Linked DNA regions of Homo sapiens: region 2 is linked to region 1. Evidence: fine-mapped expression QTL. A gene starts in region 1. The other region holds a variant in brackets. All regions are shown on one strand. Distances are between the middles of the regions. Region 1 holds the start of USP30 (ubiquitin specific peptidase 30). Region 2 overlaps USP30 (ubiquitin specific peptidase 30).

Evidence for each region. PIP is the estimated chance that this variant, and not a neighbour inherited with it, causes the effect.
Region 2: its variant is the best candidate, but not a certain one, in a credible set for the expression of USP30 in whole blood (INTERVAL, PIP 0.78).

Annotation. Positions count from the first base shown.
Region 1 is chr12:109,049,865-109,055,242 of GRCh38, reverse strand. USP30 (ubiquitin specific peptidase 30) reads right to left here and starts at 2,667. Exons shown (of 13, transcript NM_032663.5): 1 at 2,482-2,667. The coding sequence starts at 2,564. It overlaps USP30-AS1 (USP30 antisense RNA 1), which reads left to right and starts at 1,278. Exons shown (of 2, transcript NR_038996.1): 1 at 1,278-1,557; 2 at 2,505-3,202. RefSeq lists enhancers at 1,271-1,640, 1,974-2,473.
Region 2 is chr12:109,081,838-109,087,215 of GRCh38, reverse strand. It overlaps USP30 (ubiquitin specific peptidase 30), which reads right to left. Exons shown (of 13, transcript NM_032663.5): 9 at 5,197-5,283; 10 at 4,473-4,553; 11 at 4,154-4,373; 12 at 2,143-2,263; 13 at 1-1,549. The coding sequence ends at 1,285. Among named protein-coding and RNA genes, the nearest start is that of ALKBH2, 8.9 kb to the left of the region's middle. The variant A/G (reference allele first, on the strand shown) is at 2,609.

The sequences.
Region 1 (5,378 bases):
GAATATTTATAAAATTAAAGATTTCCTAACTTCAGGCTTGACTTGAACGCTGGTTATGCTTTTGCTACATATTAAGAAATTTCCCCAACAATTTAAAACATTGTTTTTATACAAAGTTATATATTTCTACAAAATAAGACAAACCATCTATGTGTATATAGCTATGTAATGTGTATCTGCATATATGTTACACATGCATACATACGTGTTTGTGTGTGTGTGTGTGTAATACATTATTATCCCAGTATTTGGATCATGTGAATATTGTTTTGATTTCAGTTCAGTAAACATTAACTTGGTGAAGAGTCACTGGTGGTAATATTGACCCTGTTTTATAATAATCAGCATTTCTTAGTATCATAGCTGATAGCTGAATTTCAGATAAATATTTGTTTTCCAAGACAGAGTCAACAGAATATGCACCAAACTTGGTTAAGAAAGTGGGATTACCTTATTCTGGTTCAATCCTGGCTTTGCTATTTCATTTGGCATCACTTCACCTTCTAAGCCTCAGTTTCCTCATCTGTACAATGGGGACAATCCATAAGACCTACCTCATAGGGCTGTTGTGAGGATTAAATAAGTGTGAATGCATACAGTACATAGTAAGAACTTAATAAATGTTAGCTGCTACAAATTAAGCATTACAATCTCAGGATCATTCATGAAAGCTATTCTTTCTTTTTTTCTTATTTTTATTTTTATTTTTTTTTGAGACAGTGTCTTGCTCTAGTTGCTCTAGTGCCCAGGCTGGAGTGCAGTGGTGCCATCTCAGCTCAACACAATCTTCACCTTCCGGGCTCAGGTGATCCTCCTGCCTCAGCCTCCCAAGTAGCTGGGACCACAGCTGCACACCACATGCCCAGGTAATTTTTAAATTTTTTTGTAGAGACAGGGTCTCACTACATTGCCCAGGCTGGTCTCGAACTCCTGAGCTCAAGAAATCCACCTGCCTCAGCCTTCCAAAGAGCTGGGATTACAGGTGTGAGCCACCATGCCCAGCTGGTGAAAGGTATTCTTGAAGTTTCTTAATACATCACTGTGCTTTTACACGATACGTGAGTTCACAAAAGTGCCTGGAAAGATTATAAAGGACTGTCATGGAAGTGCTAAGGTGCTTTACCAGTGCTTTAAAATCCCCTAATCAAACACTAATATTTAAGGGTACATACTCTCTGCCAGGCCCTGTGACAATCTTACCTCATTTTTAAAACAACCCCACAGATGCAGGTTCTACTATCACTTTCATTTTTATAGCAGAAGAAACTAAGAGCCCAACTTGGTCACAGTGAGTGAAGGAACATGGCTCTGAATCATGCCTGTCTGTCTCCCCAGGTCTGTGCTTAAAACCACGAAGTTCAAGATGGAAACTGAAGGGAAGAGTGTCAAGGGGATGGGAGAGAGGACTTGTCCATGACTTTGGCAGCATAAGGAAAAAATACCCAGGGACAAGTGGCGACTTTGGAAACTCCATTCCTCTGCAAAATGACATCACGAGGAGAGTGGTGGGGCCTGCGGATGAAAAGATCTGGCTTCTCCTCCCAACTCTGCTATGAGGTCAGCTATGGGGCCACACTTCCTATCTACGGAATGGGGGCACTGGACAGGATAAGTATCGAGGACTTTCAGCCCTGGGATAATAAGCTCTTTAAACCTGCTCCAGTTCCAGAGGAAGCCGACCTGAGCAACAGGTCTCAGTCATTTGGGGTCAGCAGTGGGGGAGGGGGTACTCAGTTCTGAAGCCTGGAGCCCTTGGGAGGGTGAATAAGAGGGAAATGGGGGCCCTGACAGGATTGGGGACCCAGGCAATCGAGGAGTCCTAACAAGAACGGAGGGCTTTAACAGGACCAAGCAACCTTAACAGGTTAAAGGGGCCCTGACCAATTTAGAGACCCTTGCAAAACAAGGGCCTTTACTCACACTAACAACATCAGGGACCCAGACAGAAGTGGCGATCCATATTAGACTAGAGGGCGGGCTAACAGGAATAGGGGGCGGTACTAACAAAACGCGGGGCTCGCAGGCCCGGGGCACTTATAGGACTAGAAGAACCGTGCCAAGGTTGGGGAACCCTGGCAGTCCAGAAACTGATATGATTGGGGGACCCAGAAGGACTGGGGGTATACTAGAAGGATTGAGGGGTCTTGGCAGGCCTAGGAGGCACTGAAAGGACTGAGGGCACTGACAGAATTAGGGGCCTTGACAAGACTGGAGTGCCCCGGGTGTCCTGGGAACAATGACAGGAGGGGGAGGGACTGACAGACCTGGGGAGTGCAGACAGAATTGGTGTTGCCGAAGGACTGGAGCCCGTCAGTCCTCCCACCTACGGGCCCAGGCCTCCAACCCTAAAGGACGCAGAACCTTCCAGAATGCCCGCGCGGGCCCTGGAGACCCCAACTAGGGCATGAAAAAGCCGTCACGGGCCCAAGCTGGGGACCCTGGTCCCGGCCTCTTCGGCAGCCCCGCCCCCCAAAATCTCACCTGACGGCCGCCCCGGTCCGCAGGAAGCGCTGGATGGCCCTGTCGGCCGCGGTCATCGCCGCCTCGGCCCGGGAGCTCAGCATTGCAGCCGCACCGGAGGCCTGAAACCGTCTCCTCCGCTACCGCCGCCGCCGCCGCCGGACCGAGGGATACGACGGTTCCCGAGACAGCGGAACCTGCGGCCGCAGTCCCAGCACCTCGGGGGAACGTAGACCGCAGGACAGCTCCCAGGGGGACCGGAAGTAGCTGCCCCCGGAGAGCAATAGCTGACGGACCACGTCCTTTCTTTCTTTTCCCTTAGCAACAGGCCCCGGCGTCGGTTGCTACGCTGGGCTCAGTTGCCTGGGGCTGCTTGGTTTTCAGATTTGCTTAGGCTCCATTCATAAATACAGATGGCACACTTCTAGGATGGACCCTGGGTCATGATTTGAATTTTTCGATGTGGGGAAGGGAGGCCAACAGCCGAAAGTCGGGTCAGGCCTCTGCTATAATTAGTTATTATTGTGGCCAGAGTGGAAATAGGTCGCAGAGGAAGGAACTTTAATGAGCATGAGGCCCATCTCTGACGATATCAGTAGAGAAATCAACGTCTTTAATAGCCAACAAACTTATTGTTTACTTGGGTGCCAGGTATAGAGCTAAGTATGTTACATTCATTATTTACATTTAATATTCACACCAACTCTAACATTACCCACATTTTACATCCCAGGGAACCCAGGAAATTTGAAGAAATAGTAAGTTTTTTGACGCAGCTTGTAAGTGGTGAAACAGAGATTGGCAGTTCGGTCTGTCTGTCTCCAGAATGGCACTCTCCAACAGAAATATACAGGAGCCACATAGGTAATTTTACATTTTCCAGTAGCCACATTAAAGTGAAAAGCAGGAGGTAGGCCAGACGCCGTGGCTCACGCCTGTAATCCCAGCACTTTGGGAGAACGAGGCTGGTGGATCACCTGAGGTCAAGAGTTCGAGACCAGCTTGGCCAACATGGTGAAACCCCATCTCTACTAAAAATACAAAAATTAGCCGGGCGTGGTGGCAGGCTCCTGTAATTCCAGCTACTCAGGAGGCTGAGGCAGGAGAATTGCTTGAACCGTGGTGGTGGAGGTTGCACTGAGCCAAGATCATGCCACTGCATTCCAGCCTGGGTGACAGAACCAGACTCCATCTCAAAAAAAAAAAAAAAGAGGTCAGGTGCGATGGCTCATACTTGTAATCCCAGCACTTTGGGAGGCCGGGGGGTGGGGGTGGGGGGCACGGATTGCTTGAGGTCAGGAGTTCGAGACCAGCATGGCCAATATGGTGAAACCCCGTCTCTACTAAAAAATACAAAAATCAGCCAGGTGTGGTGGCGCGTGCCTGTAATCCCAGCTACTCGGGAGGCTGAGGCGGGAGAATCGCTAGAACCTGGGAGGCGGAGGCTGCAGTGAGCTGAGATCACACCACTGCACTCCAGCCTGGGCAACAGAGAGAGATTCAGCATCAAAAAAAAAAAAAAAAAAAAAAAAAGCAAGAGGTAAAATTAATTTTAACCATATTTTTTCCTTGACCCAATATGTTCAAAATATTGGGGCAGGTGCAGTGGCTTATGCCTATAATCCCAGCACTTTGGGAGGCCAGGTGAGAGGATGGCTTCAGGCCCAGAGTCCAAGGCCACCTGGGCAACATAGCAAGAACCCATGGCTACCGAAAAACAAAGAAAAGAAAAACAAAATATGTCATTTCTATGTGAAAATTATTGATGAGATAATTTACATTCTTTTTTTTTTGAGATGGAGTCTTGCTCTGCCGCCCAGGCTGCAGTGCAATGGCACGATCTCGCCTCTCAGGTTCAAGCGATTATCCTGCCTCAGCCTCCTGAGTAGCTGGGATTACAGGTGCACACCACCACGCCCGGCTAATTTTTTTGTATTTTTAGTAGAGACGGGGTTTCACCATGTTGGTCAGGCTGCTTGAACTCCTGACCTCGTGATCCATCCGCCTCGGGCTCCCAAAGTGTTGGGATTACAGGTGTGAGCCACCGCGCCCGGCCCATTATTTTTTTGTTTTTTGGTACTAAGTACCTCTCAGTTTGGAGTACCCACTTTTCATGTGCTCAATAGCCCCAAGTGGCCAGCAGCTACCGTATTGGACAGCACAGTTTATAAAGCATTAGAGCCAGCAAGATTTTTCCCTCCCTTTCAATCGCTTTCTCCGACTCCAGACTGAGTAATTGCATTCATGCTGGGGGTGGTGTCGCATACCTGTAGCCCCAACTACAGAAACAAAACAAAAGAAATCAATGCATTAGATCAGTAGTTCTCAAAGTTTTTGTTCTCCGGATCTCTTTGTACGCTTAAAAAGGATTGAGGGATTTTGTTTATATCTAACTGTACTCTGTTAGAAATTAAAATTGAGAATTTTTGTTTCCTTAAAATTGAGGTATATAGGTATATCTTGTTTTTTTGTTGTTGTTGTTTGTTTTTGAGATGGAGGCTCGCTCTGTGGCCCAGGCTGGAGTGCAGTGGCGTGATCTCAGCTCACTGCAAGCTCCGCCTCCCGGGTTCAAGTGATTCTCCTGTCTCAGCCTCCCGAGTAGCTGGGACTACAGGCTCCCGCCACCACGCCCAGTTAATTTTTGTATTTTTAGTAGAGACAGGGTTTCACCATATTGGCCAGGCTGCTCTTGAACTCCTGACCTTGTGATCCACCCACCTTGGCCTCCCAAAGTTCTGGGATTACAGGTGTGAGCCACCGTGCCCCGCCCGGCATATCTTGTTTTATTGCACTTCACTTTATTGTGCTTCGAAGATACTGCATTTTTACAAGTTCAAGGTTTGTGGCTACCTGACTACAGCAAGTCTATTGGCACCATTTTCAACAGCATGTGCTCACTTCGTGTCTCTGTACCACAT
Region 2 (5,378 bases), 32 kb before region 1:
CTAAATTAAAAATATAGCTTAAAACATAGGTACTACTGTGTCATCAAAATTCCTTTGGCCCTGGGCTGCATTCAGAGACTTACCTGAAAAGGGAAGAAAGTGCTCAATATATACTTTTTGTATTAGGCTATTGGAAATGAATAAATTCAGAATATGGACCTAGAGCAACATGACAATACTAGATGCCAGCTGTAGTTATATGTTTTTTAAAAAGTCAAAAGCTGCTTTCTCCTTTTCGTGAAAAGGGCTGAACTTTGGTGGTCATCAAATCTAACCCTTCACTTCACAAATGAGGAAACTGAGGTTCAGAGAGACTGCAGCCCCATAGTCAGCCCTTCCTTCCTAAGCCAGGTGTCAACTCAGGGCAGGGATTATTTTTTTATACAGCCCCAAGCTCCCACCTGTAAACCTTAAGAGCTCTGCATGGGCAATAAATAAACAGATGAAAGTAACCGTCCACAGTGGATCCTTGTGTAAGAAAAAGTTTTCCACAGAGCAGAGGAATCAGGTGTTGCAAAGATCCAGCTCAGTTCTGGCTATTCACAGAGTTTTATAATACAGTGTAATTACATCTCAGTCCAATATACAAAAGATAAAAGCAACAAGTAAGCTCTTCACTTATAACTGACAAAGTAGTGAAAGAGTTTCCCCAGGGGGCAGATTTGGCAGATGAGCCTTTACTCCATAGAAAGAATTGAAAGATTAGAAAAGGCATAGAAAAAGGAAGGTGTTCTTTAGGCATCATTTACCTGTTCTCTTGCTATCCTTTGAGTAGCCTGGAAGGAATATTTCACAATGGACGTGCTACAAAAGCAATCGAAAGTGAAAGGCACTTTTTCTTCTAAATTGTTGCCTTTAATAATTTCATTAATTCTTGTCAACAATTTTTATGGGCCTGCTTATTAAAAATAAAAGATCTAAGTGGAAACGTTGATTAGACAAAGGTACCTCCCCTCTGAGAACACCTAACATTACAATATGAAAACGGTGGCTTCAAGAATCTGAGTTCTTTTAATTACCTGTATCAGATGAGTAAAAAGACACTCCGGACATAATGAATGCTTTCTTAACACAACAGAACCACCTACACACATGAACAGGACTGTTCAGGGAGCCTGGTTTGGTGTGAACTGGGGCTGGCTCCCAGGTGGAGCCTGCTCTTAGAACACACCAGAAGGCTGGAAGGCTCTAGTGGGGCCGCTTGCACACGCAACAGTACAGTTTTACTTTTTTCCTGGACAGTGCAGACAGTGCCATCAGCTCTAGCCTTGCAGGAGGGCACAGTCATTCTTCAGACTTGCACTCCTGGCTCTGGTGCTGCATCCTGGAAAGGACGCGCTCGTAGAACAGCAGGTAGGCGCTGGAGGACAGGACCTCCTGCAGGCTGGCCTTGCGGACAGTGTCATCGGAGACCCACAGCCACTGATTGCTAGTTGAGAGAGGGTTCCTGGCAGAAGGTGGGGACCGTCGGTAAGTGACAAAGTGTCCAGAGTGCATGTCTCCATGGTGGACGACAACTGCCATCAGCCGGAAGAGGTATGTGGAGGAGCTGAATGATACGAACACATGTCAGGGGTTTACAATTTTAACAAAAAGACTTTATAGGCAAAAACAAAAGAATGCTAATGTTAAATAGGGGATGAATACAATGGTAAGTCCATACCACCAAATGCTACACAACTATTAAAATACAGATCTGTATTTACTGGCATGGCAAGATGTACATTCTATGAGTATATGTATATTGTGTATATGTGGATGTTTGTATCAATGAGTGTATGTGTTTATGTACACTATATGTATGTGTGATGTACAACTTTATAGAGTGCATGACCCTAAGTGTTTAATTGGCTATCTCTAGATGGTATCCCAAGAAATTTTAAATTTTCTTTATATTTTATACATACACACATATATACACACATACATATGCATATGTAAATTTTATGTACTTTAAAAATTTTTAATTTAAAAGTTATTTCCATTTTGGACAAAAATAAATAGGAATGTGTAATCGTGAAACTTCACCTTAAAATGAAAAATAAACATCTATATTTTCCTTAATTCATTTCTGTGAAAAGCTAATTTTAGAAGCTAAGAGCAGTGGTAGCTCTAAGATGGGGCTTGTAAAGGGTGGCTCACCTGTAGTCGGGAACAACTGGGAGAGGGAAGGGCATCGGCGCTGACAGCGTTGGCAATAAAGATGGGGAGCAGGCGCCATTCATAAAAATCTGTGTTTTGGGGGCCCCTGGCTGATTCAGAACTGCAAGAGAAAAAGGCCCGAGTCAATGAAAATTAGCAGTGGCTCTGTAAACAAAACCTGGTTTTGATTACCTTGAAAGTTAACTCCCCATAATGCTACAAAGAAAAAAATCTATTTCATTTGGTATTATATAGATTCATAAAATAATCTGCCCTTTATCCTTAATCTCAAATAGGGATAATCTGTCTTAATCCCAAATAGGAAAAGTGTATCTAGCTCCAGCTTTACGGCTAGCCTGGGATCTTTGAGCTTCCTAGCCCTGTTTGCTAATGCCATGTATCAAAGTTAATCAGTAGCTAATTTACTGGCTTTTGACCTAAACCAAGGTTTCTCAACAGCAGCACC[A/G]TGATGGTTTTGGCTGGATCATTCTTTGTTGCGGGGGCTGTCCTGTGCATTAGAGGATGTTGAACAGCATCCCTGGCCTCTACCCACTAGACACCAGTAGCACCCCTCCCCCAGTAGTGATAACCAAAAATGTTACCAGACACTGCCCAATGTCCCTTGGGAGGCAAAACTCCTCCAAGTTGAGAACCACTGATCTAAGCATTCTATTTGCTTTAATTCTGTCAGCTTCTAAGGAATACCAACGTGTAATAGCATTCATACATGTTTATGGGTAGACAACATAATTAAGGCCATATTTACATGTCTTTTCCTTTCAAGTGTCATTTTTGGGGGCTGTTATGTACCAAGTAGTTTCCTGATGACATTTTTTGTGTGTGTTTTAGACAGGATCTTGCTCTGTTGCCCAGGCTGGAGCACAGTGGTGTGATCACAGCTCACTGCAGCCTCAAACATCTGGGTTCAGGCAATCCTCCCACCTCAATCTCCCAAAGTGCTGGGATTGCAGGTGTGAGCCACCACGAGTGGCCCTACTGCTGGCATCTTTAACCACAGCCAGCATGCTCTCAACATTAGTAAACCTGCACCCCAGCCCAGGAGATGGGGAAGCTGGGGTGCAGAGGTCTTTGATTTAAAACCAGGGCCAAGGACTGAACCAGAGTCTGTCCCCTACCTCATCTCTTTTCGATGTTAATCTAGTGACTTGATGAGAAAGAGGAAAACACAATCTCCCTGACATGATGAGGTGTCGGGCCATGCAACTGTGGTCATAAAAAGAACAAAAGGAGTAAGGGACCCTAAATAGGAAAGTATGGGGTGTGAGACAATCCTGACCTAACTGGGGGCAGCAGACAGGTGGTGAGTTCAGGCTGTGAGCCCTTCAAGTGAGTGGGTTTTCCTCATGTCTAACTCTAAAGAACTCAGTGTGTCACATGAGACACCTTTAGAAAATGGCCCAACATGGCATTCTAGGGCCAGTTCTCCTGTGTGGTGTTTGCCCTTGGACCAATCATTCAACCCCGTGGAGCCTCCATGTTCTTATCAGTAAGACCGGCGATAATAGCTACCCGGCTTAAATGAGACCTCAGCTGAGGGCAGTAATGGAATCAGATACATAATTCAGTACAGAAGGCATTTCAACCCCCAGAAGAGGCTCAGTGATCTTTAGCCAGGACATGTCCTCCCTACATTTCCTCTACTGACAGGAAATGACATGACCGAAAAAAGAAATTCACTGGAATGATGTGAGCCAATGATTATATCATTTAGCGGAAAAATTAGAAGGCAAAGCTGCAATTTTAAGCGTTTCTCTCTGTACTTTTTCATCTGTAATATGGTTTCAAAAACGATACATCTCACTGCTACATAATTTTAACCTCTTCTAAGAAATCTTCCCTCTTCCACCCCCAATCCTGCTGTTCTCAAGAGTTTAAGCACCATTGTACAAGCCTTGTGCTCCTGTCATAAGGGACCCAGAAGGTGGTGATGCCAAACTGCTTTTCTCTGTGCTGAAAATTCCTGCTGCATCGGCTCCTCGCGCGCACACACCTGGTGTGGGGGCTCCCGGCCCATCCTGCAGCTCCAGTGTAGGCCCTGGGTTCTTGTTCAGTTTAGGGTTGTGTTGACTAGGTTTATGTCCAAGGAGGTGGTACTTGTAAATGTCCATCATCAGGAACTCATTGAACTGCACGTGCTCATGCCGCTTCAGAGGCGTGCCGTGGCTGGACCAGCTCAGCCGCTGTAGGTGGATGCAGAGACACTGAGGGAGCTGCGGGTGGAAGAGAAATCGGGAGAACCGAGTTGTTTCAGGGGCAGGATACACGGAGTCCTCAAAACAAAGCCAACAGGGTGTGTAGTGTGGGCTCACCTTCCCTAGTTTTAACTGTTTAACAAAAGTGGTCCTCTGGTGTTCCACCTTTTCCCCGTTCAACGTTCCCTTGGCTTCAATCTGAAATAAAAGGAACATTTCTCTGCAGCAATGCCTAAAATAGGACAGCTTTGGAGTGCTGCAGACCACAGTGGTGTTATAGCGGCACACAATTGGCACTTGACTGCTACCTGCTGAAATGAACCCAGCTGCCCAGTTATTTGTGAATTGTTTTCCCTGATCCCTCTTAGTCATTAAATAACAGAAACAGTGGAGGGAAGAGAATGTGAAGAGCGAACACTGATGCTCTGACACTGGCATGTCATCTATTAATTGTTCTCTGTCTTCAAAAATTCTGTTCCATACAGTTCCTCTTGAGTCAGAGGGGAAAACTCAAGTTACTTAGGGGAGTCAGGCAGGTAGCACAGGTTAAAAGGAAGGGTGTAAAACAAATGGGATTGGAGGCAACTGCAGCAAACTGGAGAGGGCATTTCTCATCTCAGCGTGACAGTTTATTCTTTAAACACTGTGCATGAAACAAAACTCATCTGGGAAAGAGATTTGGTCCATGAGCTGCCAATGTCCAAACCAAATTAGGGAGAAGTAGAAGTGGCTGAAAAGACCCACTGGATACAGTCAGAAGAGCTCAGGGTCACTGGTGTGAGAGGCGCTACATCAGCACACACAGGCCAGCTGGCGATGACATTTGGGGTTCAATGCATACCTTTGTACAGTTGTCACACACAACATCCCGCACTGATTCTGATGAGATGAAGTGGTGAAGGCAGTGGTCCAGGGTCAATGGGTGACCCTACAGCATGAGAAGAAGAAAATTACTACAATTCAAAGGACAGCTATACTGAAACTGTTAGCAGATGGCAGTGTGAAGACCAGAGCTTTATTTTG